Homo sapiens: one gene and its partners. The protein of the gene in region 1 interacts with the protein of each later gene in a biochemical or structural test. Each region holds a gene or a part of one and is shown in the gene's direction. Other genes may lie near its edges. The genes, in order: ARHGEF12, SLCO1B1, SH2D3C, ABCA1, CIB2, PLCB2 and CD46.

Region 1 (4,186 bases):
TAAATTATAGTTTATTCAGAGAGTTTTACATCCTGTAGTCATTTATAAAAAAATGAAATAACTCTCTATATGTGCTAATGTGGAACAGTCCCCAAGATATAAGTCATACACCACACACACACACACGTGGGGGAATACGTATATGAATGTATTCTACCATTTCAATGAGGAATACATATAGGAATACCAAAGGAATGCATATATGAATATATTATGCTACCATATCTTGTTTTAAAAAAGGACATATACACACAACATGCACAAAGACAAGCATACTTATATATACATATATAAATAAATACATATCTGTTTGCATAGAATTTTTCTCAAAGGCTACCCAAGAAATGGATATTAGTGATTGCTTCTTTAGGGAAAATTGAGGGGGGTGGGGCAATAGGACAAGGTTAGAGGGAGACTTTTTATTTTTTGCCTTATATAGCCATCTGAATTTTGTACTGTGTGCATGATTTACATATTCAGAAAATAAATATAAGCTAATAAGAGACCAATGACTTTGAAAAGAAGATTGAGAAAGAAAAGCCAAAGAGGCAGGAGGAAAACTAGGAGAGTATATTATCACCAAAGCCACGGGAAGAGAGTGAGTTTTCAGTCCTGTCTAGCATTGCAAAGAGCTCAGTAAAATGGAGATTTTTTTTTTTTGAGATGGAGTCTTGCTGTGTCGCCCAGGCTGGAGTGCAGTGGCGTGATCTCGGCTCACTGCAAGCTCCGCCTCCCAGGTTTGCACCATTCCCCTGCCTCAGCCTCCCAAGTAGCTGGGACCACAGGCGCCCGCCACCATGCCCGGCTAATTTTTTTTTATTTTTAGTAGAGACGGGGTTTCACTGTGTTAGCCAGGATGGTCTTGATCTCCTAACCTCGTGATCCACCTGCCTCAGCCTCCCAAAGTGCTGAGATTACAGGTGTGAGCCACCACGCCTGGCCAAAATGGAGATTTTAAATGCCAAGTTTGATTCAGAAATAGAGAGGTCATTAATGACCAAAGCACTAACCTTGGTTCCACCCTGCCTAATTTTCAGCGCCTAGAAGATTATCAGCGTCGCCTTGATACCTCCAGCCTGAAGTTGTCAGAGTACCCAAATGTTGAAGAGCTCAGGGTGAGAGATGGTCTAATCATAATTTAAAAAATAAAATAAAATTTGCTAAAGACCTGGCAGGTAATTAACATCTCAGTGGGAATATACGTCACCTGAAGGAGTTCTTGTATCGTAGATTATCTGTATTTATGATTTTTTTTGCTGCCTTTTAAATGCTTGATCTGTATGAAATTAGTTTTTCATTAGAGGAATATCTTGCATAAAACTGTAATATTACATGACAGCAATTGGCAGGAGACTAAGGGACACTAATTATTATAAAATTTAATTTTATTGTGTTCTGTAGTTTGTTTCAGACAGGGTCTTGCTCTGTTGCCCAGGCTGGAATGCAGTGGTGCAGTCTTGGCTCACTGAAGCCTTGGCCTCCTGGACTCAGGCAGTCCACCCACCTCAGCCTCCCTAGCAGCTAGGACTATAGGTATATGCCACCATACCCAGCTAATTCTGTGTTTTGTAAAGACAAGGTCTCGCTGTGTTGTCAGGTTGGTCCAGATTTCCTGGGCTCAAGTGCTCCTTTCTCAGCCTCCCACAGTGCAGGGATTACAGGCATGAGCCACTATGCCCAGCCTGTGTTCTGTAGTTTAAATAAGGGTAGGACTGTTTGGTAACTTTCCAGATCATTTAATAACACAAGATAGCATACTATTTTCTCATGAGGCTCTTCAGAAGCATAAAAGTTGGAACCATTACAGGAACGATAGTAAAATGTTTACTAATTGCCACTTCTAGTATGTGGGCTTATGTGTTAACTTTTTCGGATTTTAAGTGTTTTTGTACCATTTCACTAGGTGGTGGTTTTGGCAGATTTATTTGGTGGCTGTTAAAATAGACTTTTATGTCATATATTAATACTTCGTCAACAAGCACGTAAATGTGCTTATTCCCCTTAGCTTCCAAAGAATGAGAGTTTTCTAGAGCTGCTAATACTAAAAGATGATTCTCTTACTAATAAGTTGTTAATATTTAGACCAAGTCTGAGTAGTACCTGGACTTTTCATGAGTACTATTTCTTAGAACTTTCTTTGAAATTAGAGCCTTGGAACTCAGAAGCCACTTTCTTATAGACAAGCATATGTACCATGCTCATCCAGTTATTCATAGGAAAATTAAAGGATACGTTGAGAATCTAGTGACTGAATGTTTGTAACTTGATCTTCATAATCTGTTATCATCTGTTTAGAGTGAGGTTTGAAGATAGTACTCCTGAATGTTCTTCTGCAAGATACCTTTTCCTTTTTAGAAAATTGTATGCAGATTACTTTAATATGGCTTTTGTGCCATTTTCAAGAACTGACAAATAGCAATAATGATAGTTGAATGTAAATGGTGTATTTTATATTAAGAATTTCTTTAAAAGAGACTGTATTATATAGATAATCATGTTACTGAGTGCTTGGAAATTATTTGTGCATGATTTTCTTTATTTTGCCAGAATTTGGATTTAACAAAAAGGAAGATGATTCATGAAGGGCCATTGGTTTGGAAGGTGAATAGAGATAAAACTATTGGTAGGTCTGATATTGTCTTTTAGTTTTGGGGAGAGTGGCAAAAGGGAAGGAATAGGAAAGTTTCCTATGACAAAGGGAAGAGGAGAGAACCATTCTCTCAGCAGTTTGCAGTGCTACCTCGTGTTATTTGTACATTTGTAGATCTGCTTGTGTTATTTCATTATATGTAAGATGTGTTAAATATTCATTTAGGAATGTAGTGGAGAACTGATTTAGTCCTATTTCCATCATTCTTATAGTCTAGTGAGTCTTTGTATGCTTTGTAAGCTTTCTTTAGACCAGTACATCTTAAACTGTCTGTGATGAGGAACCGTTTTTGTTTTTTCAGAAACAAGGTCTTTCTATGTTGCCCAGGCTGGAGCACAGTGGCTAGTCACAGATGCAGTCATGGTGCACTGCTGCCTCGAACTCCTGGGCTTAAGGGATCCTCCTGCCTTAGCCTCCCTAGTAGCCGGGACTATAGGCGCACAGCACCACACCCAGCTTGTTGTTTTTTATTTCCTATTGGTCACAGACTGACACTTCAGTGAAATAAAATAAAAATGAATTACTGAAAATGAAATTTTAAAAGATAATATACAAGTCAATTTTTAAAATTTTGTAGCTTTAACAGAAATAGAATTCCTCTGTTGAATCATTATAAAGTTAATCAAACGCGTCTCCATTTCTGTACTTACCATTTTTTTCTGCACTTTTATTTCTAGATTTATACACGTTGCTGCTGGAAGACATTCTTGTATTGTTACAAAAGCAGGATGATAGACTGGTTTTAAGGTGTCATAGTAAGATTCTGGCATCTACAGCTGATAGCAAACACACGTTTAGCCCTGTCATTAAGTTGAGTACAGTGTTGGTTCGACAAGTGGCAACAGGCAAGTATGTCCACTGAAGGATACTAATTTCCAGATTCATTGTGAAGTTGCATAAGATACTCGGTGCTGTCTCAATAACACAAGTGGCATAGAGTCTTGCTATTTTTATATTCTTAAGCAAATTACATGAAATTTACTGCTTAGAAAGAGACCTAAGAGTTTATACCCCAAAGTTATTAGGGTGTCTCGATTCTGTGAACAGTTTTCTGCATTTGAAAATTTTTATGCTATTACTTTGGTTCTTTATGTTCAAATCATTGATAGATCCCAATGAAAAGCCTTTCATTTAGGGTGGTATGTTTTTTGATTTGGTGAGAAAAAAATCAAAAACCAAAGAGACGGATGTAGTGTTGATTAAAAATCAAATTTGACTGGCAAGTTATATTTTAACTCTATTAACAACGGGGTCCCTTTTAAAACTTGTTAGTTTCATGGTGGCAAAATAAATTTGTGACCTCTTTTCTCCACTACTCACTGAATATTATTAACTAACAACTTAGCAAAAGTGCAGTTCAAAATAAATGCAAAAGAGTAATAGCATTTAATCTGGTAATTTGGATTTATTTATTTTTTTTCTTTTGAGACGAGGGTCCCACCCTGTCACCCAGGCTGGAGTGCAGTGGTACAACCTTGGCACACTGCAACCTCCACATCCCAGGCTCAAGCAATTCTTCAACCTCAGCCTCCTGAG
Region 2 (4,186 bases), on another chromosome or scaffold:
TGTATGGAAAATAAACCTTAAAGGCAAGTATCACAGCTTCATCTTCCATTCTACCCTAAAATTAAGGACCACAATCTAGATCAGCATTGCTCTAAATATGCCATAATATGTGACACTTTTGCACCTGGTATTTCTACAGCCTTGAATACCTTTGTTTCTTTGTCTACCCTTCTATTCATCTTCCAGATTCGTTTTACCTGTCATTCTCATGTTGATGTCTTCTCTGATCTATTCCCGCAACCTCCAAGCAAAGTTGATCATATCCTTTGTCTTTGTGACAACTCAGGACCTTATATATTAAACTTATAACTTTTATCATCTATGTTTATACTAGTGTGAAATTCCCTAAGTACAAAAACTGTGTGTTTTATTTCTAGCTCTTTGAAGCTTAGCATAATGCCTGGAATACAGTAGGCTGCCTTTAGAGCTCACGTGGTACCTAATTATTTATGGATATTAACATCTCTGTTATTCCTATCAAGTTTTCTCTCATCTAGTTGAAATGGATTAGATTTTATTTTTACTACATTTTGAAGAGTCATACATTAGAGCGTGTGTGTGAATATGTGTCCATGAAAGAAAATCTGACAGACTGATCATCTTTGAAGATAATTCAAAAGGATGAATGGTTACACACAATTAATAATTACTTTTTAAAAAGGTGAAACTAGGATATTTCATATCTTGACCAAGATATAACCACTCCTAGGATAATAGCAAGGTGATAACCCACTTAGCCTGGGGTGTATTGAATTATCTTTCTTGCTGGACACTTCCATTTCACTTTTACCCATCACATCTCTTAAAACACATGCTGGGAAATTGACAGAAAGTACTCTGGTAATTTGGGGAAGATAATGGTGCAAATAAAGGGGAATATTTCTCTGTATTTCTAGGAAAAGTGAAAATATTCAGTAGATAAGCAAAATGTTTAATTCAGTGATGTTCTTACAGTTACAGGTATTCTAAAGAAACTAATATCAATTCATCAGAAAATTCAACATCGACCTTATCCACTTGTTTAATTAATCAAATTTTATCACTCAATAGAGCATCACCTGAGATAGTGGGAAAAGGTAAGAATTAATATTGACAGTAAAAAGTCTTCTAAAATGTATACATTTAATTACATCTCTAAAAATTGTTGTGATATTCATTAGCAAAATTTAATTAAGAATGAATAGGAAAAACATTTGACTCTTACAGACATAATTATAGTGTTAATATACACAGTTCGCCCATTAACAACACAGGTTTAAACTACGCGTTTTCACTTCTATGCAAATTTTGTCCATCTGAACTGGATGATAAACCTGCCGGTAAGAATATCTGACATTTTCTATATTTGGATTGAACAGGGCCAACTGCAGAACTTAAGTGTGCATGAATTTGAGAACACACAGGCAGCCCTGTAACAAATTCCTTAATATACCAAGGGATGACTGTATTATATGTAAAAGCATTTAGAAGTAGATCAGAAAAGAGAATATTTTCAATAGGAAATTGACAAAGAATATATGCATTAAAGTAAAACAGAAGGAAATGGTATAAATATGTAAATAATATAACTTTGCTTTCATTGCAAAAGGCAAACTATTATATCATTTAAAGACTTTTTGCCTATTATAACACAAATTATAAATTATAATTGCAAATTGTACTGCTAAAGATTTTTTTAACCTATTAAATAGAAAAAGACTAAAAATACATAGAGACGAGGTAGAGGCAAAAAAGGATTTCACATTGTATATATTGCTGGAAGTGTATACGTTTGTAAATCTTTCTGGAGATTCATTATCAATATATGTTAAGAACAAAAATATACTTACCTACTTAGTCTGAAATTCTGCTATTATTGATTAATCTTAAGGAAATAACCAGGAAACTGCAAAAGGACTTATTTACAGTTATAGTCATGATAAACCTAATAGAATAAAACAACAAAAAAGAAATTAAAACATAAGATACTGAATAAACACATTTGGAAACTTATTCAGCACATTACTGTCCAGTCATTAAAGTTTTGATATTAAAGAAATCTTAACAACATGGAACAATTGTTATAATATGGTGTTAACTGTGTATACCATTTAACAATATGAACTAGATTTTTAAATATATAATGGATATAATGAATATAATGTATATGTTTTGTGCAAATCTAGAAGATATATAAAAAAGCTTGAGGTGATCTTCTGTGTGTAATGTGATTACAGATAATTTTTACTTGTTTGTGCTTTTCTGTATGATATGGCTTGACTGTGTCCCCACTCAAATATCACCTTGATTGTAATAATCTCCACATGCCAAGAGTGGGGCCAGGTAGAGATAATTGAATTTTGGGGGCGGTTTCCCCCATACTGTTCTCGTGGTAATGAAGAAGTCTCACAAGATCTGATGATTTTATAAATGAGAGTTCCCCTGCAAAAGCTCTCTTGCCTGCCACCATGTAAGACATGGCTTTGCTCTTCCTTCATCTTCCGCCATGATTGTGAGGCCCCCCAGCCATGAGGAACTATGAGTCCATTAGACCCTTTTCCTTTATAAATTACCCAGTCTCAGGTATGTATTTATTAGCAGCATAAGAATGGACTAATACACCATATTGTCAAAGTTTGCAAAGTGAATATAAATTACTTGTACTTGTAAATTAAAAAAAAATAAGTAGAATAATTAAGAGTTTACAAGTAGTTAAATTTGTAATAGAAATGCTAAAATTAATGTTTAAAATGAAACACTCTCTTATCTACATAGGTTGTTTAAAGGAATCTGGGTCATACATGTGGATATATGTGTTCATGGGTAATATGCTTCGTGGAATAGGGGAGACTCCCATAGTACCATTGGGGCTTTCTTACATTGATGATTTCGCTAAAGAAGGACATTCTTCTTTGTATTTAGGTAATGTACACAAAATATTAAATTGTATGATCACTTTCCCTTTGTCTACTTTTGAAATAGTAGAGTTACTAAACTTATTATTTTACCTATTAGAACATATATTTGGGTATATGTATTGTATCATATTTCTTTTAAAAACATGGTGAATAAGAACCATGCATTCTTGGCATCTAGTAAAATTGCTTTATAATATTTTCAGGTATATTGAATGCAATAGCAATGATTGGTCCAATCATTGGCTTTACCCTGGGATCTCTGTTTTCTAAAATGTACGTGGATATTGGATATGTAGATCTAAGTAAGTACAACCAGAACAAGGTACCATGATAACGTCTTTCTAAGCACACATGCGAAAAACATTTTTTCAAATAACTGAATTCACTCTTTCAATAGTCCTTTGCTTAATATAATTAGAAAGTTACAAGTAGGAAATAAATGTATTACTAATCAGAATAAATATAAAATCCAGCTCCTATTTATACTATCTTTATAACTAAGTGTAAAATGAGAGAATGTAAACAAATTTATTTTCATGAGCTTGGTCCAAAATAACCAAATGTAAAATGTCTCCCTCCCAAACTGACTGTCCAGTCAAGTAAATTTTATTTTTCAGTTGATGGTGGCTTGGATGTTGATGTGTACAACTTAAAGTTTGCTTTGCTAAAGTCTTCTTGTGGCTGCTGCATTGATTTATGGCTGGAGTCATTTGAGAGACTTCACTGTGTATTTTATGGTCATTTTCCCTGGTCCTAGCAGAGGGCTTGGCGTATGGCAATGTTCAGTAAGTACTTGTTGAACAAAGGAATAAAGCAGAGGACACATAAATAAAATCTATGATTTTCTTCTTCATTCTCAGAGCATACTTTCCTTCTTATCTCATAGATGAAAGAGATGCCATGTTATAAAAACTGTCTCAACTTCAGGCCCTTTTCCCTAAAAATATTCTTGCACCATATCTATCTTTATCTTCTTTTTCTTTTTTGCAGCTCAGTGGAAAATATATACATCTGTATCCAATGTTGATAGATCTAGCTGGAGCTTAGATTCTCCCTTCCCGCTTCTTTATCTCCATCTTCTCTTTTATTCAGCAAACACACCCAAGTATTTCCCATCTTTATATGTAGATACAGTTTTTTATACCCCCACACAACTTTCCAGCTGAATCCTTTTTTTATTCCTCTTTAGAACCAAGCACCTAGGAAAATATCAGCTAAATTAGCTAAGATATCTCACCTTCTCACCTCCCATCCACTTCTAAATCCAGTATAATCTGCTTCTGTTATTA
Region 3 (4,279 bases), on another chromosome or scaffold:
GGACACTTGGTTGTCAGTCTGTCCAGTGTCTGCCTCTGCTTTTTTTTTTTTTTTTTTGAGATAGGGTCTCCCTCTTTCGCCAGGCTGGAGTGCAGTGGCGCGATCTCGGCTCACTGCAACCTCCGCCTCCCTGGTTCAATTCTCCTGCCTCAGCCTCCCGAGTAGCTGGGAATGCAGTTGCACACCACCACACCCGGCTAATTTTTTAAAATGTATTTTTAGTAGAGACGAGGTTTCACTATGTTGGCCAGGCTGTGCTCAAACCCCTGACCTCAGGTGATCCACCCACCTCGGCCTCCCAAGATGCTGGGATTACAGGTGTGAGCCACCGCGCCCACCCTGGGGCTGTTACTGTTAATGGAGGATGCAGGAAGTGCCCTATCAGATGGCAGTGGACTCCTCTCACAGCCTGGGTTGCCAGCCTGGGGTCCAGGATAAAATGTTGAACCCCCACTGGTTGGCAGGTTGGCTGCATACCTCCCACTTCTCCCCATTCTAGAAATCAGGTGACTGAGGCTTGGGAGGTGGAAGTAGCTGGGATTGGCAGCCCTGGGTCTTGGGCCCCGCCCCCAGCCCCAGCAGCTGCTGACACCCTTTGCAGATGTCCAGGATGACCCGTGGAGGGGAGGTTGCATTTCCTCATCTCGGTCTGCCCACCTGAGCATGCACACATGGCAAGTTTGTAGGGTGGAAAGGCACCAGCCCGTGGGTTAAGGGGCCTAGAAGGGAGAGTTGTGGCCCAGTCTGGGCCAGCAACCAGCTGTGTTACCTGGGGAAATCCCTCTGCCTCTCTGTGCCTCGGTTTCATCATCTCTGTCCAGTGAGTACAGTGGAACACATGATGACATCTCCCTGATAGCTTGGAAAGTGGTGACTGTGCTTTGGTAGGCACCGATTCTGTGCCAGGCCCTACACCCATGGCTGAACCCGATGAAGTGGGCACTGCGAGTACCCCCGGTTCACAGGGAGGACGTCACACCGTGGCGAAATGGCCAGCCAAGAGTGGAACTTGGGTCTGGGGGGCCCAGAGTCCACAGGCCTGACCACAGCACTCTCCCATCTGCAGCTGCCAGTCCCTCTCCTGGGTACAGAGGCTGAGAAGCAACTGCCCTGCACACAGGCCTGACTCCCCTCACCTTCCCAGCCTGATGGCCAGGCCCCCTGACAGCTGTTGGCAGGTCCCCAGCGGCCCCCAGCCCACTGGGCTCCGTTCCCAGAGCCTGCGGCCTGCTCCTTAGACCTTCCAGGTCCCAGGGGCTTGCGGTCTGGCCCCTGCCCCTGCTGCTGAGGCCAAGGAGGCGGCCCACAGGGGCTGGGGCTAGGAGAGGCCCCAGCCCCCGCCCCCTGCGGAGAGGGTGGGGAGGGTGGAGCTGTGGGAGTTTCACTGGTTTAAAAATACACAGAGGAAGCGAGTAAGAGAAAGGGGAAGGGGAGGTGGGAGAGGCACCTCAACTTTGATGTCCCGAGCCTTGAGTGGCCACTCGCAAGCTGGCCAAGGGCTTCACACAATTTGCCAAGATGACAGAGGGGACCAAGAAGACCAGCAAAAAGTTCAGTGAGTGTGGGGTGCCGTCTGCACTGTCCTCCATCCCTGGCTCTCCTCTGGGCCTCTCTCTGCATCTGTTTCTTCATCACTGTCTCATTTCTGTTTTTCTCTCTCTCACTCTTTTTCTTTTTTTGTTTTTTGCTTTTGGACACCAGCGTCTCTGTCACCCAGGCTGGAGTGCAGTGGCACAATCTCGGCTCACTGCAGCCTTGACTTCCCAGGCTCAAGTGATCCTCCCACCTCAGCCTCCTAAGAAGCTAGGCAAGTAGCTAGGACTCCAGGCACAATTAAATCTTTTTTTTTTTTTTTGGCCAGGTGCAGTGGTGGCTCACGCCTGTAATCCCAGCACTTTGGGAGGCCGAGGCTGGTGGATCACCTGAGGTCAGGAGTTCGAGACCAGCCTGGCCAACATGGTGAAACCCCTCTCTACTAAAAATACAAAAAATTAGCTGGGTATGGTGACACGCACCTGTAATCCCAGCTACTCAGGAGGCTGAGGCAGAAGAAACGCTTGAACCCAGGAGGTGGAGATAGCAGTGAGCAGAGATTGCACCACTGCACTCCAGTCTGGGCGACACAGCGAGACTGCATCTCAAAAAATAAGTAAATAAATAAAGTAAAATAAAACTGATTTTTTTTTTTTTTTAGAGACCGGGGTGGGTTCTCACTTTGTTGCCCAGGCTGGTCTCGATCTCCTGGGCTCAAGCGATCCTCCTGTTTCCCGCCTTGTTTCTGTTTCTCTTTGTCCATCACTGTCTCTCTGCAGACGTCTCTGCTTCTGGGCATCCCGTGGCTTTCTGGCTGTCACTCTGGCCCAGCATCTCTGTCTCTCTGACTGACTTCGTTCTCCATCTCTGTGCTTCTCTTTATCCGTCTCTTTGTCTCCCCACCGCGTCTCTCGATCTCTGCAGTCCACTGTGTCTCTGGCTGTCTCTGACCTTGCGGCCGGGCAGGGGAGGCATTCGCACACTCCATCCCCTGCCCGCAGGCCTGGGCTCACATGGGATCTCAGGTGGGGAGTTACTGGGGCAGCAGAGGGATGGGGGCGTCATGGGATCCCAGGTGGGGAGTTACTGGGGCAGCAGGGGGATGGGGGCATCATGGGATCCCAGGTGGGGAGTTACTGGGGCGGCAGGGGGATGGGGGCATCATGGGATCCCAGGTGGGGAGTTACTGGGGCGGCAGGGGGATGGGGGTGTCATGGGATGCTGTCTCACATTCCCAACAGCAGTGAGGCTGGGACCCAATACTTGGGTGGGGAAAGAGCACAGAGGTACTAGAATCAGGCTCCACGGTGAGGGGCCACACTTGCCCACTGCTCTGTTTTCCTGTGTCTGTCCTTCCCAGTCCCAGCAAACTTTTTCTGTCTCCTGATTCCTTTGATCTGACCCCACCAGGGTGGGGGACATGTGGCGTAAAGGGCAGTGATTGTGACTGCATTTCCCAGATGGCAATGCTGAGGCGATTATGACTGCATTTCCCAGATGGCAACGCTGAGGCCCAGAGACTTGCTTGAGGTCACACGGGCTATTGAGCAGGGCCCAATCCCAGACCCTGGACTCTGGGCCTCAGTTTCCCTCCCAGCCCCCACTATCTCCTCCAAACGTCTGGTGCCCAGGAGGCAAAACCAGTGGTGCTGAGAAAGAAGGCAGTTGGGGGTCCTCCCTCTGGCCACTGATTCAATTTCCACCCCCACCGCATGCAGCAGAGCGGCCACATTTGCCGACACGTTTCTCAGGAGACCAAGGCAATAACCAAATAGGGCCGGCAGGGCTGGGAAGCAAACCCCTGAGCACTGACCCAGCTGTGCTGAGCCCTGGGCCTGTGTCCAGGCTCAGCCATGGCCTTGCTGTGTGACCCTGGGGGAGTCCCTCCCCATTGCTGGGCCTCAGTTTCCTCCCTTGTCAACTGGGGGCATCCTACCTGCATCCCAGCACGGGTGCGAACAGCTGAGGAGGTGGAGGATGCTGAGGATGTGGAAAATGCCGGAGTTTTACCTTTTTGCTCATCTGGAGGCTGTGGGGAAGTCAGTTGGTGGTGGCTGTGAGAAGGGACAGTCCCACAGCTGGGGGCAGGGGGAGGGAACTCACATACACCCCCGCAGAAACCAGGAGATGGTATCACCCCAGCCGTTCCTCTTGAGTCTGGAGCTGGGCTCAGCTGACAGGAAGGAGAGAACCACAGACAGTGCGACCCTCAGGCTCACAACAACCCCCTCCTCATTCCACCCCCACCCCAGGTGCACAGAGGCTGGCTGGAACACTCCCCAACCCCCTACATGAGCACAAAACACGCACACCTGCTCCACCTACCAGCGGTGTGAGCTCGGTTCATTACACTGCTCTGAATCTCAATTTTCGCATCTGGAAAATGGGGATTAAACTGTGTCACTGAGTTATGCTGAGAATTCATGCAGCACATTTGGCAGATGCAGAATCATTTTCAGAAATTTTTAAATTATTATTATTAGTGGCCAGGCACGGTGTCTTACCCCTGTAATCCCAACACTTTGGGAGGCCGAGGTGGGTGGATCCCTTGAGGTCAGGAGTTTGAGACTAGCCTGGCCAACATGGTGAAACCCTGTCTGTACTAAAAATACAAAAACCAGTTGGGCGTGGTGGCACGTGCCTGTAATCCCAGTTACTCGGGAGGCTGAGGCAGGAGAATCGCTTGAACCCAGAAGGTGGAGGTTGCAGTGAGCCAGGATTGCACCACTGCACTCCAGCCTGGGTG
Region 4 (4,186 bases), on another chromosome or scaffold:
GACCTCAGAAATTCTGAAATGGGACTGCACCTGCAGACTGAAGTGTTCAGAGAGCCAGGGAGGTGCAAGGACTGGGGAGGGTAGAGGCAGGAACCCTGCCTGCCAGGAAGAGCTAGCATCCTGGGGGCAGAAAGGCTGTGCTTTCAAGTAGCAGCAGATGTATTGGTATCTTTGTAATGGAGAAGCATACTTTACAGGAACATTAGGCCAGATTGTCTAACCAGAGTATCTCTACCTGCTTAAAATCTAAGTAGTTTTCTTGTCCTTTGCAGTATCTTATCAAACATCCATGAAGTACATCAGAACATGGGCTACTGCCCTCAGTTTGATGCCATCACAGAGCTGTTGACTGGGAGAGAACACGTGGAGTTCTTTGCCCTTTTGAGAGGAGTCCCAGAGAAAGAAGTTGGCAAGGTACTGTGGGCACCTGAAAGCCAGCCTGTCTCCTTTGGCATCCTGACAATATATACCTTATGGCTTTTCCACACGCATTGACTTCAGGCTGTTTTTCCTCATGAATGCAGCAGCACAAAATGCTGGTTCTTTGTATCTGCTTTCAGGGTGGAAACCTGTAACGGTGGTGGGGCAGGGCTGGGTGGGCAGAGAGGGAGTGCTGCTCCCACCACACGAGTCCCTTCTCCCTGCTTTGGCTCCTCACCAGTTGTCAGGTTATGATTATAGAATCTAGTCCTACTCAGTGAAAGAACTTTCATACATGTATGTGTAGGACAGCATGATAAAATTCCCAAGCCAGACCAAAGTCAAGGTGCTTTTTATCACTGTAGGTTGGTGAGTGGGCGATTCGGAAACTGGGCCTCGTGAAGTATGGAGAAAAATATGCTGGTAACTATAGTGGAGGCAACAAACGCAAGCTCTCTACAGCCATGGCTTTGATCGGCGGGCCTCCTGTGGTGTTTCTGGTGAGTATAACTGTGGATGGAAAACTGTTGTTCTGGCCTGAGTGGAAAACATGACTGTTCAAAAGTCCTATATGTCCAGGGCTGTTGTATGATTGGCTTGTCTTCCCCCAGGGACAGCAGAGCAACCTTGGAAAAGCAGAGGGAAGCTTCTCCCTTGGCACACACTGGGGTGGCTGTACCATGCCTGCAGATGCTCCCAAATAGAGGCACTCCAAGCACTTTGTTTCTTAGCGTGATTGAGGCTGGATATGTGATTTGATCTTTCTCTGGAACATTCTTTCTAATCATCTTTGTGTTCATTCCCTGAAAATGAAGAGTGTGGACACAGCTTTAAAATCCCCAAGGTAGCAACTAGGTCATAGTTCCTTACACACGGATAGATGAAAAACAGATCAGACTGGGAAGTGGCCCTTGACCTTTTTTCTTCTGTAGATAAGAGCATTGATGTTATTACGGGAAGAAGCCTTTGAGGCTTTTATGTATTCCACCTCGGTCTGGAATTTGTTTCTGTAAGGCTAACAGTTGCAATATACTAGGGTAATCTGAGTGAGCTGGAATTAAAAAAAAAAAGGAATTTCACCCCAATCTTATACTGACTTCAATAGAGGTTTCAGACAAAAAGTTGTTTTGTATATACTTATCAGTCATGAAAAGATAATTACAACTAAATGGCCTTTTTCCTTCCCTATTTATTTGGAGAAATTTAATTACATAAAAAAGTACTCAGAATATTTGAGTTTCCTGCATCAATAAGACATTTATAATAATGACCTTGTTTACAAATGAATTTGAAAGTTACTCTAATTCTTTGATTCATCAAGAAATAACTAGAATGGCAAGTTAAAATTTAAGCTGTTTCAAAGATGCTTCTGCATTTAAAAACAAATTTATCTTTGATTTTTTTTCCCCCCAGCAAATAAGACTTATTTTATTCTAATTACAGGATGAACCCACCACAGGCATGGATCCCAAAGCCCGGCGGTTCTTGTGGAATTGTGCCCTAAGTGTTGTCAAGGAGGGGAGATCAGTAGTGCTTACATCTCATAGGTCCGTAGTAAAGTCTTGGGTTCCTCACTGTGGGATGTTTTAACTTTCCAAGTAGAATATGCGATCATTTTGTAAAAATTAGAAAATACAGAAAAGCAAAGAGTAAAACAATTATTACCTGAAATTATATATGCATATTCTTACAAAAATGCAAGCCCAGTATAAATACTGCTCTTTTTCACTTAATATATTGTAAACATTATTCCAAGTCAGTGCATTTAGGTGTCATTTCTTATAGCTGGATAGTATTCCATTAGGATATACTCTTATTTAACTATTCCCCCTTTTGTAGACATTTGGATTATTTCCAACTTGTTCACAATTGTAAACACCACTACACTGAACAGCATCATCCCTATATCCACATGTACTTGTAACAGAATACAATTCCCTAGGAAGCTGGAATGCTGGAAGTCATGGTGATGTTCTCATGGTTACAGAGAATCTCTCTAAAACTAAAACCTCTTTCTGTTTTACCGCAGTATGGAAGAATGTGAAGCTCTTTGCACTAGGATGGCAATCATGGTCAATGGAAGGTTCAGGTGCCTTGGCAGTGTCCAGCATCTAAAAAATAGGTAATAAAGATAATTTCTTTGGGATAGTGCCTAGTGAGAAGGCTTGATATTTATTCTTTTGTGAGTATATAAATGGTGCCTCTAACATAAAGGGAAATAAAACTGAGCAAAACAGTATAGTGGAAAGAATGAGGGCTTTGAAGTCCGAACTGCATTCAAATTCTGTCTTTACCATTTACTGGTTCTGTGACTCTTGGGCAAGTGACTTAACTACTGTAAGAGTTAGTTTCCCTGGAAGATCTACCTCCTAGCTTTGTGCTATAGATGAAATGAAAAAAATTTACATGTGCCAGTACTGGTGAGAGCGCAAGCTTTGGAGTCAAACACAAATGGGTTTGCATCCTGGCCCTACCAATTATGAGCTCTGAGCCATGGGCAAGTGACTAACTCCCTGGGCCTCAGTTTCTCTGTAACATCTGTCAGACTTCATGGGTCCAGGTGAGGATTAAAGGAGATCATGTATTTACAGCACATGGCATGGTGCTTCACATAAAATAAGTATTTAGTAAATGATAACTGGTTCCTTCTCTCAGAAACTTATTTCTGGGCCTGCCAGGGGCCGCCCTTTTTCATGGCACAAGTTGGGTTCCCAGGGTTCAGTATTCTTTTAAATAGTTTTCTGGAGATCCTCCATTTGGGTATTTTTTCCTGCTTTCAGGTTTGGAGATGGTTATACAATAGTTGTACGAATAGCAGGGTCCAACCCGGACCTGAAGCCTGTCCAGGATTTCTTTGGACTTGCATTTCCTGGAAGTGTTCTAAAAGAGAAACACCGGAACATGCTACAATACCAGCTTCCATCTTCATTATCTTCTCTGGCCAGGATATTCAGCATCCTCTCCCAGAGCAAAAAGCGACTCCACATAGAAGACTACTCTGTTTCTCAGACAACACTTGACCAAGTAAGCTTTGAGTGTCAAAACAGATTTACTTCTCAGGGTGTGGATTCCTGCCCCGACACTCCCGCCCATAGGTCCAAGAGCAGTTTGTATCTTGAATTGGTGCTTGAATTCCTGATCTACTATTCCTAGCTATGCTTTTTACTAAACCTCTCTGAACCTGAAAAGGGAGATGATGCCTATGTACTCTATAGGATTATTGTGAGAATTTACTGTAATAATAACCATAAAAACTACCATTTAGTGAGCACCTACCATGGGCCAGGCATTTTACTTGGTGCCTAATCCTATTTAAATTAGATAAAAAAGTACCAAATAGGTCCTGACACTTAAGAAGTACTCAGTAAATATTTTCTTCCCTCTTCCCTTTAATCAAGACCGTATGTGCCAAAGTAAATGGATGACTGAGCAGTTGGTGATGTAGGGGTGGGGGGCGATATAGAAAGTCAGTTTTTGGCCGGGCGTGGTGGCTCATGCCTGTAATCCCAGCACTTTGGGAGGCTGAGGAGCAGGCAGATCATGAGGTCAGGAGATCCAGATAATCCTGGCCAACAGGGTGAAACCCCGTCTCTACTAAAAATACAAAAATTAGCTGGGCATGGTGGTGCGCACTTGTAGTCCCAGCTACTTGCGAGGCTGAGGCAGGAGAATTGCTCGAACCCAGGAGGTGGAGGTTACAGTGAGCCAAGGTCTCGCCACTGCACTCCAGCCTGGGGACAGAGCAAGACCCCATTTCAAGGGGGGA
Region 5 (4,186 bases), on another chromosome or scaffold:
ACCATGGAAACGGCCCTGGGGTGGAGGGAAGTCCACATTCTGCACCATGTTTCTGGAGTTTGCTGATAAATCAGCCCACTGTGTCTCCAGCCTGTCTGTGCCTGAGGCCTGCTAAGTAGGGAGTTTTCTGTCTGTGTTGGGTGAGGAGCAGGGGGCACTGCTTCCCCAGCCTGAGCCTTTCTGGGCTCCTACAGAGGAACCACTGTCAAAAGCAAAGCTGAGACCCCCAGGAGAACCCCTCGTGTTTCCAAGAAGCCAGCATGGATCCTTAGTCTAACTCCCAGGGAGCAGCAGCTTAGAAGGACAGACTTGTTGGGCCAAATGGGGCCTGGAAATTCCCACCAGCTCTCCCCTTTTCAGCTCTCCCGAAGGCACCCAGTGGAAACCCCAGATGTTGTGTGCATCCTGCAGGCGTCCTCTCTTTGGGCCTCTTAACACGCAATCCAATTGCCCTGATGTCCAGCGGCTTCAGGTCTCATTCAGGGCAAGCCTGGCTGTTTGCAGGCCTGAGTTTCAGCCATTCACTCCTCATCAGAGCTGGCTCTGGTCAGCTTATGGCCCCAGGAGGCCCTATGGGCTCTGGGCTCTGCAGACCTAGGAGGCCTTCTTGCTTCATGCTGTAACAGTGGACAAAGGCGGAGGAGCTAAACAGCAGGGGAGGTGCACAAAAGCCCTTTACGGTTGGGCATTTTACAAAGTGCTGGGTCCTCTTCACCTCTATACTTTTCACCAAGGGCTGGCATAGTGGCCATTGTCACTGACTCCCAGTGGTTGATACTCACCTTGGGCAGGCCAAGCTGTGGATAGAGGCAGTTCATCTAAACAAAGACAGGACCCCTCCGAGATGAGTTTGTCATCTGGATGGCCCTAGGAGCCAAGTGCTGCCCCCCACCTGGAGTAATGCTTACCTGGGGATCCCCAGCAGCCCCTACCCTCACCTCTACCCCAGATGCTACCTGGTTCCCCCTGCCCACGTTTCTCCCTCCCATATCTCCCTGGCCTCTTCACTCCCTTCTCTGGGTGACCTCATCCCTTTCTGGCTTCAGACACCAAGTATATACTGATGCTTCCCCAGTCTATGTGCCTGGAACTCTCAGTCTCTGAGCCTGGGACTGCACAACCCCCCTAGCACCATGCTCAGGGCTACAGTGAGGATGGCACCCCATGCAGCTACACGAGGTGGCCCTGTGGGTCCTCATTCGGAGTTGTCTCCCAGCCACCTCCCTGTCATCCCCCAGTGTATCCCACTGGCACTCAAATCAGCCACGCATACCTGTGAGCATTCATCTTCCTCCTACATGTGTACCCTAAAGCATGCTACAGCCCCCCACCATGCACTAAGCTCCTTAGGCCTAGCCCAGGATGGATAAAGGTTTTGGGAGGCATTTTCTATACCTACTAGAGCCAGCTGTCCCCAGTGGGTGAGGGCAAGGTGGAAAGGGATAGTAGTGACTCTTCTGTCCCCAGTCCGGAGCTATCCCCTGTGAGCCCTGTGGCATCGAGGCCTCTGAGGAAGAAAGTCTGGGAGCCGCACACTGACTGTGTGTTGTGTGTTTTCCCTCAACAGGACTGCACCTTCTTCAATAAGAAGGACATCCTCAAGTAAGTGTGGCTTCTCGTTCACCCTGTTGGGACTGGGACTGGGGCCGGGGTGAGGCTGGGGCACCCCACATGGGCTGGCTGTGCTCCTGGGGCTGAGGCAGAGCATCAGCATGTATCAGGAGCCACATTCAGGTCCCCACTCGGCCACTGGGCTAGGATGGAGTTAGAGCTTCCCACTCCTCCCAGGGCCCAGATCCTCCTGCTGGGGAATGAACATCTACTTACTATGAGCTTTCAGGTGGGTAGTTTCCGGCACATTCTTATTTAATCCTCATTGTGACCTTGTAACAAGAGAATCCATTTATCCCCATTTGACAGATGGAGCTTAGCAACTTGGCTAAAGTCACAGAGCCAGGGACTCAAGACCCAGCCTCTGACTCCAGGTCCCTTGCTATTTCACTGCATCCTGGGTCCTGGTATAGCAGGGAGTCCCTGTCTGTTAGACCAGGGGTCCCTAAGGGCCCTTTGGCTCTAGCTTTGATGTTCTTCCACTCCTAGGACGTCTAAAAGTTGAGGGCATGGCCACCACCCCTGAGCTATTCATCAGGGCTCTGCTTCTTCCCAGGACAGCCCTTCTCCTTGGTGTTGATGGGGGTGGGGGTGGACCTGGATGGGAAAGATAAAGGGGATCGGCAGCCTCAGAACCCCAGGACCAGTGGGTGAGCAGGAATCACTGAATACCAAGAAAACTGCCCCACGGGCCTCACTAGGCCCCTCTGCCTGGGTGGCACTAAAAGCCAGCAAAGTCCCAGGATCACTTGCCCTGGAGATCGATGGTCAGGCTGGGACCAGAGCCCATTGCAGCTTCCCAAGAGAGCTGTGCTGCAGCTTGTCACTGCCCTAACCATTCTGCTCATTCAGGCAGTGCCTCTCGGCTTTCCTCTCTACCCAGGCTGCTATTCCAACCTGTCACCTGCATGGGCAGGGGATACCCCACTTCCACCACCTTAGAGAGTCTGAGCAAGGGGCAAAGCCTCCAGGCCTGGCATCAGTAGACCTGGCATCTGTGGCCTTGGGCAACCATTTGACCTTCCCTGAGCCTCAGTTTTCTTCTGTATAATAGGGATAGTGAAACCTACCCTCATAGCATTGCCGAGAGGCAGCAACACTGGGGTATAGTGTTTGATAAGTGGGATTTGCCCTGTAGCTTGAGAGATGTCAGGGGTGAGGTCCCCATTTCGACAGGATGGCTCTCGGTATTGGAATAACAAAGCTGTCACCCCTGGCATTCTTGTGGCACCTTTTACCTTTCAGAGTTCTTGGCATGGAGCCTCATTTGAGCCTCACAGGGAGCTTCGGGTTCCCTACCTTTGTAGATGCCAAGCCCAAGCTGCCTGTCTTCTGAGGCCCACGGCCATTTTCATTCTGGCAACAAAAGCCCCTTGCCTCGGCCTTTGCACTGGCTATCTCCACTCCCTGGAGTGTCCTTCGCCTCTCCTCTGCCCACAGCATTGCTATGCATCCTTCCAGACCCAACTCCAGAATCATCTCCTTTATAAGCACCCCCAACACCCTGCCACCCTAGTGCTATCCCAGCTGCTCTAACAGCCTGTTAGGGGCTCCTTGGGTTCCTGGACCCAGGGGCCCAGCTCCCCACCAGACTTGTGATCAGGCAGGACTAACAGGGAGCATGGCACCTGTTAGCCACCAGTGACCATATGAAGAGTGTGTGGGTGAAAGACAGGTAGGATTGGCTGAGGGAGAACATTCCAGGCTGGGGAGCAGCAGAGGTGAGACACAGGCCAGCTTCTCCTGCTCCCACTCCCACCCCCATCCTCCCGTGGTCTCATTGACAGCAGCAAGATTGCCTGTGTGGGGAAGAGGAGAGAGGAGCTTGAAGGCCAGTCCGGGAATCCGATCCAATATGATGGGCCTTTGGTGGTTGTTTTAGTCCATTCTCATGCTGCTATAAAGAACTGCCTGAGACTGGGTAATTTATAAAGGAAAGAGGTTTAATTGATTCATGGCTCCACATGGCTGGGGAGGCCTCAGGAAACTTACAATCATGGCAGAAGGGGAGGCAAACACATCCTTCCTCACATGGCGGCAGGAAAGAGAAGTGCTGGGCAAAGGGGGAGAAGCCCCTTATAAAACCATCAGATCTCGTGAGAACTCACTATCATGAGAACAGCCTCGGGGTAACTGCCCCCATGATTCAATTACCTCCCACCAGGTCCCTCCCATGACACGTAGGGATTATGGGAACTACAATTCAAGATGAGATTTGGGTAGGGACACAGCCAAACCATATCAGGGGTATCCCTGGCCCCTTGGAAAATGAGGGGCTCCAGGCAGGTGAGAGGGCTTGAGGAGAGGCGTCCTGGCTCCCCACAGCCCTGGCCTGCACCCCTCTGCACGCATCAGGACCCTAGGCTCTGTAATTCAACACCAGAGCAAAACCCAAGCCTGAGGCCCCGTCTGCAGCATGGGGATGACATTGCTTGCAGGAGCTGTTTTCTCACAGGCCCCTGTGTCTGGGAGGGCTGGGTGATGGTGTTATTAAACATGAAAAGAGCTACCTGGAGTTTGCTGCCCACCTGTCCACCCTCAGGGAAGGGTAGTTAAGACAAGACAGATTCGGGAT
Region 6 (4,186 bases), on another chromosome or scaffold:
GGAGCAGAGGTGACATCACAGCCCCAGCCAAGAGCCTGGAGAGCCAATCAACCCTGGAGCTGCTGGTTACTGACACTAGGCACAGGGGTGGAGCCAGGGCAAGGGAGTGAGACCCTGAGCTCCAAGCAGGTTTGTCTGTATCCCCTACCCTGGGTGGTGGGGGCGCTGGGGCTGTGGTTGATGGACTGTGTTCAGGGCAGGCAGCAGAAACGGCATGCATTCCCAGTCTAGTGTTGGGAATGGGAGCTGAGCGTGAATGTTTTCAGCCTGGAGGAGCGAGATAAGGTCGGCAGTGGCAGGCGGCAGTCTGCAGGGATCTGGAAGTCTGCAGCGTGTCGAGGGAGAGGAACTGAACCAAAGGCGGAAGCTGCCAAGATGCAGACTTCTGCTCTGTACAGAAAAGCATTTTTCCCTGTCTTTTTAGTTAAATAATTAATTTTTAATTACAAGTTGTAAGCAGGGTCACCCCATGAAGCAACTTGTGTGAATTACAAAAAGGAGCCCTCTGGGCTGATATGGCCCTGAGCTAGGCTTCAAGCCTGGCCAATGGAGCGAATCTCAGCCCCTGTCCCTGCTTGGCCAGTGCTCTTGTGTGGGTCCCAGCCTATACCCCATGGAGTATTTTCTCCTGGTAAGAATTTGGAACGTTATAAATAAATAAAACCACGACCCCCATTGATCACCTGCCCACATGAATCCCAGGAGGAGCATTTACCCCACAGCCACAGCTCTGCAGAGTTGGTGACTCCTTGATGCAGTCAGTCACAGGGATCCAAATGTGGCGTTGGGGAGAGGTAGGAATGGGCTCCTGCGGCTCCCCTACAGCCAGCAACACTTACCTGTGGTCAGCACACATCCACCCTCCCTCTCTCCTGCTGCCTGAGCTCCTCCCTTGGCTAAGTCCTCCTTATCTATCTGCTTTCCTTGTGTCTCAGTAGAGGCTACTGACCCAACTTTGCTTGGAGCTGAAGCTCCAGAGACAGGGAGGGGTTTGGGGAGATCCAGTTAGACTCTCCTGCTCAGACCCTCTGCTCCAAACTAAGACTGATGTTGGCCTTCCAGTGTGATTCTGAAAGACATTTAATGTTTTTTTTGGGGGGGGAAGGAATGCAAAGGTGCAGAATCCCTGAATACCACAAATGTACTTTTCATTTCTATTTCTATAGATTTGCCTATTCTGGTGGTAAAGTAAATGAAATCATAAATATATGCTTTTCGATGTCAGGCTGTATTCATTTCTCATAATGTTTTCAAGGTTTATCCATGTTGTAGCATGCATGAGTACTTCATTCCTTTTTACCACCTAATAATATTCCATTGTATGGATATACCACATTTTGTTCATCTGTTTATCAGTTGGTAGATGTTTGGGTTTTTTGTACTTTTTGGTTATGAATATTCATGTACATGATTTTGTGTGAACATGTGTAAATTCTCTTGGGTATATACCCAGGGGTGGAATTGTTGGGTCATGTGGTCACTCTATATTTAACAATTTGAGAAACCGCCAAACTGTTTTCTAAAGTGAGAGCATTGTGTAGGGATTTATTTATTTATTTTTGAGACAGAGTCTCACTCTGTTGCCCGGGCTGGAGTGCAGTGGCGTGATCTCAGTTCACTGCAACCTCTGCCTCCCAGGTTCAAGCAATTCTCCTGCCTCAGCCTCCCAAGTAGCTGGGATTACAAGCATGTGCCACCATGCTGGGCTAATTTTTGTATTTTTAGTAGAGATGGGGTTTCACCATGTTGGCCAGGCTGGTCTCGAACTCCTGACCTCAGGTGATCCACCCTCCTCGGCCTCCCAAAGTGCTGTGTGGGGTTTTAGGTTAGTCACATCCCGCTGACACTTGTGATTGTCTGTTTTTTGTTTTAGCCATCCTAGTGGGAGTGGTATCTCATTGTGGTTTTGATTTGCATGTCTCTAACTACAAATTATATTGAGCACCTTTTCTGTGTTTATTAGTCACTTATATATCTTCTTTGGAGAAATACCTGTCCAAATCCATTGTCCATCTTTCAACTGGGTTGTCTTTTTGTTGACTTATCTCTTATCGGATATCTGATTTGCAAATATTTTATCCCATTCTGTGGGTTACCTTTTCACTTTCTTGATGGTGTCCTTTGAAGCACAAAAGTTTTTAATTTTGATGACGTTTAATTTATCTTTCTTTGTCCCGGTGCTTTTGGTGTCTCCAAATATTATTGTTGAATTGTCCTCCTTTCAATTCTATCAGTTTTTGTTTTATATATTATGGGGTTCTGTTGTTAGGTGCATATATGTTTATATTCAAATTGCTTCTTTTTGAATATTTGTCCTCCACTTAAAAAAGATAGCCTACTAGCCTGGCAAGCAGCATCATTTCTTCTGACCTCTTTTCTACCTCATTCTGGTTATTCTTAGTTCCGATCCTGCCCCAGCCAATGGAATAGCCACTGTACAAAATCAGGGTCAGAGCAAACCAGCTAAGCATGCTCTCTGCTCAGCAACCAGGGCCTTGAGAAGTGGATGCTTGGGTGTCCTTGAAGTTCTTCTGTCTGCCTTGAGCCCGCCTTCTGACCAGGTCCCCTTGACCAGGGCTGGGCCGAGTTTGTGGTTCTTAGCTCTGAGAAGGTGAGGGCAGGGGCAATAAGGTTACTATGCCCCTAGAATGACGCCATCAATCCTGAGGACTTCCCAGAACCTGTCTACAAGAGTTTCCTCATGAGCCTCTGTCCTCGGCCAGAAATAGATGAGATCTTCACTTCTTAGTGAGTTTCTTGGGTTGTGCTGGTCATGGGAAAAGGGTGGTGGCTAACAATCCCCTCCTCCCACCTGCCATGCCGGGAGTCAGGAGGCTTCACTGGACAAGGGGGTTGTCTAAGCCTCCAGGCCCAAGGGATATGGACCTGTGCTCTTCTCTCTGGCTTGAAGCCATGCTAAGGCCAAACCCTACATGACGAAGGAGCACCTGACCAAATTCATCAACCAGAAACAGCGGGACTCCCGGCTTAACTCCCTGCTGTTCCCGCCAGCACGGCCTGACCAGGTGCAGGGCCTCATCGACAAGTATGAGCCCAGTGGCATCAATGCACAGAGGGGTGAGGACTAAGGGAACCCCTTGTCCCCTGTGGTCCTGTCCTGCCTTGGCAGCGGGGTTGTAGCCTGACAGCTATCTCCTGTCCCCCAGGCCAGCTGTCACCTGAAGGCATGGTCTGGTTTCTCTGTGGGCCAGAGAACAGCGTGCTGGCCCAGGACAAGCTGCTGCTCCACCACGACATGACGCAGCCACTCAATCATTACTTCATCAACTCGTCCCACAACACCTACCTGACAGGTGGGCCCTGATAACATTGGTGCCAACCTCTGCTTTCACAGGGGTTCCCTGCATCCTCCACAGGGGTTGCCCACATGCTGCTGGCCCTGAGAATAACACAGACCATGATGGAGTGGCGGTAGGGGGAGAGCTGGGCTGCCTTTGGGTGATGCCCTCACCTCTTCCCCATCCTCTGGCTCAGCCGGCCAGTTCTCAGGCCTCTCCTCGGCTGAGATGTACCGCCAGGTGCTGCTCTCTGGCTGCCGTTGCGTGGAGCTAGACTGCTGGAAGGGGAAACCCCCTGACGAGGAGCCCATTATCACCCATGGCTTCACCATGACCACAGACATCTTCTTCAAAGTGAGACCCTGGGCACAGAGGCTGGTGGCCGTGGCAGTAGGGAAGGGCTCTGGGCCAGAAGCTTTGAGGGGTTGGAGGGCTGAAGCTAGAGAAGATGAATGGCTGGAAGGCCTCAGACCATTGGGGACCAGCAGGGATTGGGGGCCAATGGCGGCCATGCAGTTATATGTGTGTATTGAAACTAGGCAGGGGGGAAAAGTGCTATCACGAGACAGGCAGTCGGAACGCTGACCTTCTGTTCATGGAGTCTCCTTCTCCTCCAGGAAGCAATTGAGGCTATTGCAGAAAGCGCCTTTAAGACCTCCCCCTATCCCATCATCCTGTCGTTTGAGAACCATGTGGACTCGTGCGTATCCAGGCCCATTCAGCCACATTCTCACCCAGCCCCCAGTCTCCTGTCTGCAACTGTCCTCCCCACAACTGCCCCAGCCTCTAACCATTGCCTACAGCTTCTCCCACGTCTCAGTATAATCACCCTAAGGCCTCATGTTCTCCTGCTCGAGTCCCAGCCTCCCTGACCTCCTGGCCCCTGA
Region 7 (4,186 bases), on another chromosome or scaffold:
GCCTCCAAGAGGAAGGTTCTTTAAAGAGCTATGCTCAGGATGGTCTTTCTGCGGTACCTAAAAAGCTAGGGCAGTGGCAGCTGAGAGCCAGAAAGGATCTGTCTCCCCTATTTGTTGACTCTGCAGGGCTTCCAGTACTTCAGTCTTGCATCTCACTGATCATTAAAACGTTCATTTTGAAGGAGGGTAATGGGAGTAGGGAGTAGTGGTGATAAGAAGAAAACAAAAGGACTTTTTTTTTTTTCTTTTAAGATTAATGTTTAGAATAGGCTTAGTGCTAGAAGTTCAGCCTGGACAGCATAAGCAGACCTCACCTATACAAAACATGTAAAAAAAAAAAAAAAAAATTAGCCAGGTGTGATGTTGCATGCCTGTGGTCCTAGCTACTTGGGAGACTGAAGGGGGAGGATCACTGGAGCCCCTCATGGTCAAGGCTGCAGTGAGCCCTGATCATACTCCAGCTTGGATAACAGAGCAAGAGACCCTGTCTCAAAACAAAACAAAACACACACACATACACACACAAACAAACAAAAAAAGAAACAAAATAGGAAGCTGAAGAAGATAATGAAAGCGATTTGAAATAGAGGAACATAGAATTATGAAATGAATAGGGTGCAACATGGAAAATAACAAAACTAAGAATGAAGAGAAGGAAAAGCAAGGTTAAGTTTGAGGTTCATAAGGGTAAATCAAGACAGGTATGAAACCTAGAGAAAGTAAAAATGAGAAGTCACGATGCTAGGCAGAGAGAATACGTGAATTAAAATAAACATTCAATTTTTGGAGCAACTCACTCTCACAAGGAGAAGGTTTCGTAAGCAGACAGTGCTGTGCATGGGAGACCTGCCCTCTCAAAGGTAGTTGCCAAATGGTTCCAGATAGTTGAAGGAAACATGTATCAAATTTCAGGCCAGTCTCATTCCTCCAGAAGAGGAGCTGCTTTTTTGGACAAAACCCGCAATCTCCTGTTGTGCGTGGTCTCTTCTGCCTATTTTAGGTGTTTTCCTTATTTCCAGTGAAAGAAGCCAAGATCAGTAAGCACTTACACAGTAGCGTCTCAGTTTCCTTACTGGGCATACTACAATGCAAAGAGAGCAGTCCATATCTGGTCACCTGCCAGGATACCAGAAGACTGGGAGATAGGCAGCACAAGAAATGGCCTAATCTTCTTTCTCCATTGTGCTGTAGAATGATTATTTTCAATATGAAATTGATTACAATATATTCTTCACATTGTTTTGTGTTTGACAGCAGTGGATTTTGAATACCAAATTTTTTTTGAATAGCTACTCTGAGTGACATATTGTGCTGGGTGTTGTGGCCACATGGATGAATGGAGTTGGCCTTGTTAACTATTAAACACAAAAGCATGTGATAGTTACCTGAGAGATCCATGCAGGGGAGAGTCCAGGGGAAGGTGACTGATCACTGCTTCCCAGGGGGAGGCAGAAAATGCTTCCTGGAGGAGATGATGGGTGGATTAAGGAAGATGAGTTGAGCAGGAGTTGTAGCTACCAGCCAGGGAGGAAGGGTATTCAGAGCAGAGGAAGCAAGGTGAGCAAAGGCACCAAGATGTGACACTACTGGACTGCCAAGCTATTCAGTGTGGCAGAGTAGGGCAAAGGAGGCAAGAAAGAAGGAAGAGGATTAAATCACAGGGTGAGTAATTCTGAAAAGCAACAGACTCATCAGGAGTAAACACTCACCATCATAAATTCAGACTTTCACGTTATTACCTGTCCTTTTAGGGCAACTTGAGCCTTTTGTTTGACTTAGCACAACATGAATCCAAACTAGGGTTGTTTTGATTTTCCCAGGCACGGTAGCAGACAATTTCTTGAATACTTATTTGCAGATAGAGTTTGTCAGTGTCAGCATTTCTTGTGCACCCACAAGGTGAGTATAGTAGAAAAAGAAGAACATGGTTCTTGACCCCCAGGAACTTGCCTTTTAAGAGAAGACACCCTGAAGTGACAAGCTGTTATAAGTTAGTGTTTTAAACTATGGAAGAACAATCTGAGCAGAGTACTCTATACTGTAGAAGACTTCTTAGAGGAGAAGTTACTTTTGAAATGAATTTAGAAAAATGTGGGGAAAGATGCATCCATATATATTTTAAGATCAAAGACATTAATGCTGTCTCTTCAGTTTATTGTCGAATGTTTATTCCCAAACAAACCAAAAGCTAATAGGATGTTACTTAAAACATGCAAGTCCCATTTCCTCCACTGCTATGAGCACTCAGGTAAAAGCATGGAACAGTCATTTAAAATCTTGCCAAGGGCCTTTCTGTTTTTTCTGTACTACCTGCTGCCAGACCACAGTCCATGGCTGATGAAAGTGATATCAGTACTTCATCTTCATGTTCCTATTCTCTTATCCCTAGATGCCTGTGAGGAGCCACCAACATTTGAAGCTATGGAGCTCATTGGTAAACCAAAACCCTACTATGAGATTGGTGAACGAGTAGATTATAAGTGTAAAAAAGGATACTTCTATATACCTCCTCTTGCCACCCATACTATTTGTGATCGGAATCATACATGGCTACCTGTCTCAGATGACGCCTGTTATAGTAAGTAAACAAACCTCTTTTTTTTTTCTGCTTGCTCTAGAGATTTGCATACATTTTGGGGTACATATTCCACTACGGTGATGATGATTTTCTTCTTGTAAAATGAGGTTCAAGATAACAATGCATTTTTGCAAGCTTTGAGAAATCAAAATCTCCAAGAAATCATTTTCCTGGCAATAGATTGCCTGGGTGAATATGAATCTTAAGTTTGCCCTTATAATAAGTAAATAATGAAAATTATATTCCCACCCATTCAAAAGAGCACTGCAGAATTTTGATTTTGATTCAGATCTGTTTTATAACTGGATTGAAAACTATCAAAATTATTTTCTTTCAGGAGAAACATGTCCATATATACGGGATCCTTTAAATGGCCAAGCAGTCCCTGCAAATGGGACTTACGAGTTTGGTTATCAGATGCACTTTATTTGTAATGAGGGGTAAGTTGCTCCTTAGAGGAAATAAGGGAAGTGTTAGTAATTTTATTTTTGTTTTGCTTCTCTTCTTAAGCATTCCTGTAAACTTAATTTTGCTTTCTATGTGACAAGTTATACTTCTAGCCAAACAACTCTTGGATGTTTTATGGAGATAGGCAAGATATATAGTAAATAGAAAGTAATTGATATTTAAGGAAAGCAAAACTACTTGCTGTTTCTGACAATAAGTCTGTTGTAAGCATTAAGAATGTAGTAATCATGAGAATTTGTCCTTCACAACTGAGTGTCCCCTATTTAAATCTGCCAACTCTTAGAGTTGAAGTAGGGCTCACAAAAATGAGAAATAGAATTGCCAACTAAAGATACACTTGTATCCAGATGACTCTGTAAAGTGTTATCAGACCAAAACTGACGCGGTTAGCCTTTACCATCATGTTGATCAAAATCTCTCAGTTGAAAAACCTTATTTTTGAGACTGCTACAGTGTGAAGCATCTCAAGAGCAGGTACTGAGCCCTCGGTAATAGCCTTTGTTCTGTAGGGTTTTGAAGTTGTATATATTGGAGATACTAGACATTTAAGATAAATGTGCATTTATAGAGTAAATGTAAGTATTCTGCTATAACAGAATACTTGAGGCTAGGCATTTATAAAGAAAAGAAATGTATTTGGCTCATATTTCTGGAGGCTGGAGAGTTCAAGGGGATGGCAGTAGTGTCTGGCAAGGGCTTTTGTGCTGCATCATAACATGCTGGAAAGTGAAAGGGAAATTTAGCATGTGCAAAAAAGACAAAGCACAAGGGAGGGGGTTCTCGCTTTATAACAACGTGCTCTTATGGTAATGAATCCAAGCCTACAAGAATGAGAACTCATTCCCTGAAGAATTAATGAAGACCCTCTAGAAAGGCATTATACCTCTTAATGACCTAGTCATTTCTTAAAGGCCCCACCACCTCTCAATGCTGTTACACTGGCAATTAAATTTCAATATGAGTTTTGGTAGAGACAAACCAGATTCAAACAATAGCAGTAACACACCATAATATAGAAAAAGTAAGTGAGTCTTGGAGGAAAAATCAGCTGTGACTATGTAAGGCAACTGACAGTTTTTAAAATTTGGTCAAGTAGAAATATTGGAATATTCAGTTGACACATACTGCTTGCTAGGCACA

The links.
Region 2: the proteins of ARHGEF12 (region 1) and SLCO1B1 interact in a test that uses a peptide from one of them, tested with the Homo sapiens proteins (one large-scale study listed by IntAct).
Region 3: the proteins of ARHGEF12 (region 1) and SH2D3C interact in a test that uses a peptide from one of them, tested with the Homo sapiens proteins (one large-scale study listed by IntAct).
Region 4: the proteins of ARHGEF12 (region 1) and ABCA1 interact in a test that uses a peptide from one of them, tested with the Homo sapiens proteins (one large-scale study listed by IntAct).
Region 5: the proteins of ARHGEF12 (region 1) and CIB2 interact in a test that uses a peptide from one of them, tested with the Homo sapiens proteins (one large-scale study listed by IntAct).
Region 6: the proteins of ARHGEF12 (region 1) and PLCB2 interact in a test that uses a peptide from one of them, tested with the Homo sapiens proteins (one large-scale study listed by IntAct).
Region 7: the proteins of ARHGEF12 (region 1) and CD46 interact in a test that uses a peptide from one of them, tested with the Homo sapiens proteins (one large-scale study listed by IntAct).

Annotation. Positions count from the first base shown.
Region 1 is NC_000011.10:120,472,013-120,476,198, forward strand, and holds part of ARHGEF12 (rho guanine nucleotide exchange factor 12), read left to right. Parts: intron 1-1,037; coding exon 1,038-1,115; intron 1,116-2,547; coding exon 2,548-2,623; intron 2,624-3,327; coding exon 3,328-3,495; intron 3,496-4,186. UniProt on the Homo sapiens protein: May play a role in the regulation of RhoA GTPase by guanine nucleotide-binding alpha-12 (GNA12) and alpha-13 (GNA13). Acts as guanine nucleotide exchange factor (GEF) for RhoA GTPase and may act as GTPase-activating protein (GAP) for GNA12 and GNA13.
Region 2 is NC_000012.12:21,175,822-21,180,007, forward strand, and holds part of SLCO1B1 (solute carrier organic anion transporter family member 1B1), read left to right. Parts: intron 1-954; coding exon 955-1,076; intron 1,077-2,754; coding exon 2,755-2,901; intron 2,902-3,100; coding exon 3,101-3,199; intron 3,200-4,186. UniProt on the Homo sapiens protein: Mediates the Na(+)-independent uptake of organic anions.
Region 3 is NC_000009.12:127,775,867-127,780,145, reverse strand, and holds the start of SH2D3C (SH2 domain-containing protein 3C), read left to right. Parts: upstream 1-1,479; 5' UTR 1,480-1,518; coding exon 1,519-1,555; intron 1,556-2,214; exon of another isoform or gene 2,215-3,605; intron 3,606-4,279. UniProt on the Homo sapiens protein: Acts as an adapter protein that mediates cell signaling pathways involved in cellular functions such as cell adhesion and migration, tissue organization, and the regulation of the immune response.
Region 4 is NC_000009.12:104,784,654-104,788,839, reverse strand, and holds part of ABCA1 (phospholipid-transporting ATPase ABCA1), read left to right. Parts: exon of another isoform or gene 1-272; coding exon 273-414; exon of another isoform or gene 415-785; coding exon 786-920; exon of another isoform or gene 921-1,223; intron 1,224-1,863; coding exon 1,864-1,967; intron 1,968-2,449; coding exon 2,450-2,542; intron 2,543-3,200; coding exon 3,201-3,444; intron 3,445-4,186. UniProt on the Homo sapiens protein: Catalyzes the translocation of specific phospholipids from the cytoplasmic to the extracellular/lumenal leaflet of membrane coupled to the hydrolysis of ATP.
Region 5 is NC_000015.10:78,121,121-78,125,306, reverse strand, and holds part of CIB2 (calcium and integrin-binding family member 2), read left to right. Parts: intron 1-1,567; coding exon 1,568-1,602; intron 1,603-4,186. UniProt on the Homo sapiens protein: Calcium- and integrin-binding protein that plays a role in intracellular calcium homeostasis. Acts as an auxiliary subunit of the sensory mechanoelectrical transduction (MET) channel in hair cells.
Region 6 is NC_000015.10:40,297,690-40,301,875, reverse strand, and holds part of PLCB2 (1-phosphatidylinositol 4,5-bisphosphate phosphodiesterase beta-2), read left to right. Parts: intron 1-266; coding exon of another isoform or gene 267-284; exon of another isoform or gene 285-1,209; intron 1,210-2,401; coding exon of another isoform or gene 2,402-2,467; exon of another isoform or gene 2,468-2,630; intron 2,631-2,647; coding exon 2,648-2,748; intron 2,749-2,911; coding exon 2,912-3,078; intron 3,079-3,167; coding exon 3,168-3,314; intron 3,315-3,495; coding exon 3,496-3,653; intron 3,654-3,916; coding exon 3,917-3,999; intron 4,000-4,186. UniProt on the Homo sapiens protein: The production of the second messenger molecules diacylglycerol (DAG) and inositol 1,4,5-trisphosphate (IP3) is mediated by activated phosphatidylinositol-specific phospholipase C enzymes.
Region 7 is NC_000001.11:207,754,625-207,758,810, forward strand, and holds part of CD46 (membrane cofactor protein isoform 3 precursor), read left to right. Parts: intron 1-2,389; coding exon 2,390-2,578; intron 2,579-2,915; coding exon 2,916-3,018; intron 3,019-4,186. UniProt on the Homo sapiens protein: Acts as a cofactor for complement factor I, a serine protease which protects autologous cells against complement-mediated injury by cleaving C3b and C4b deposited on host tissue.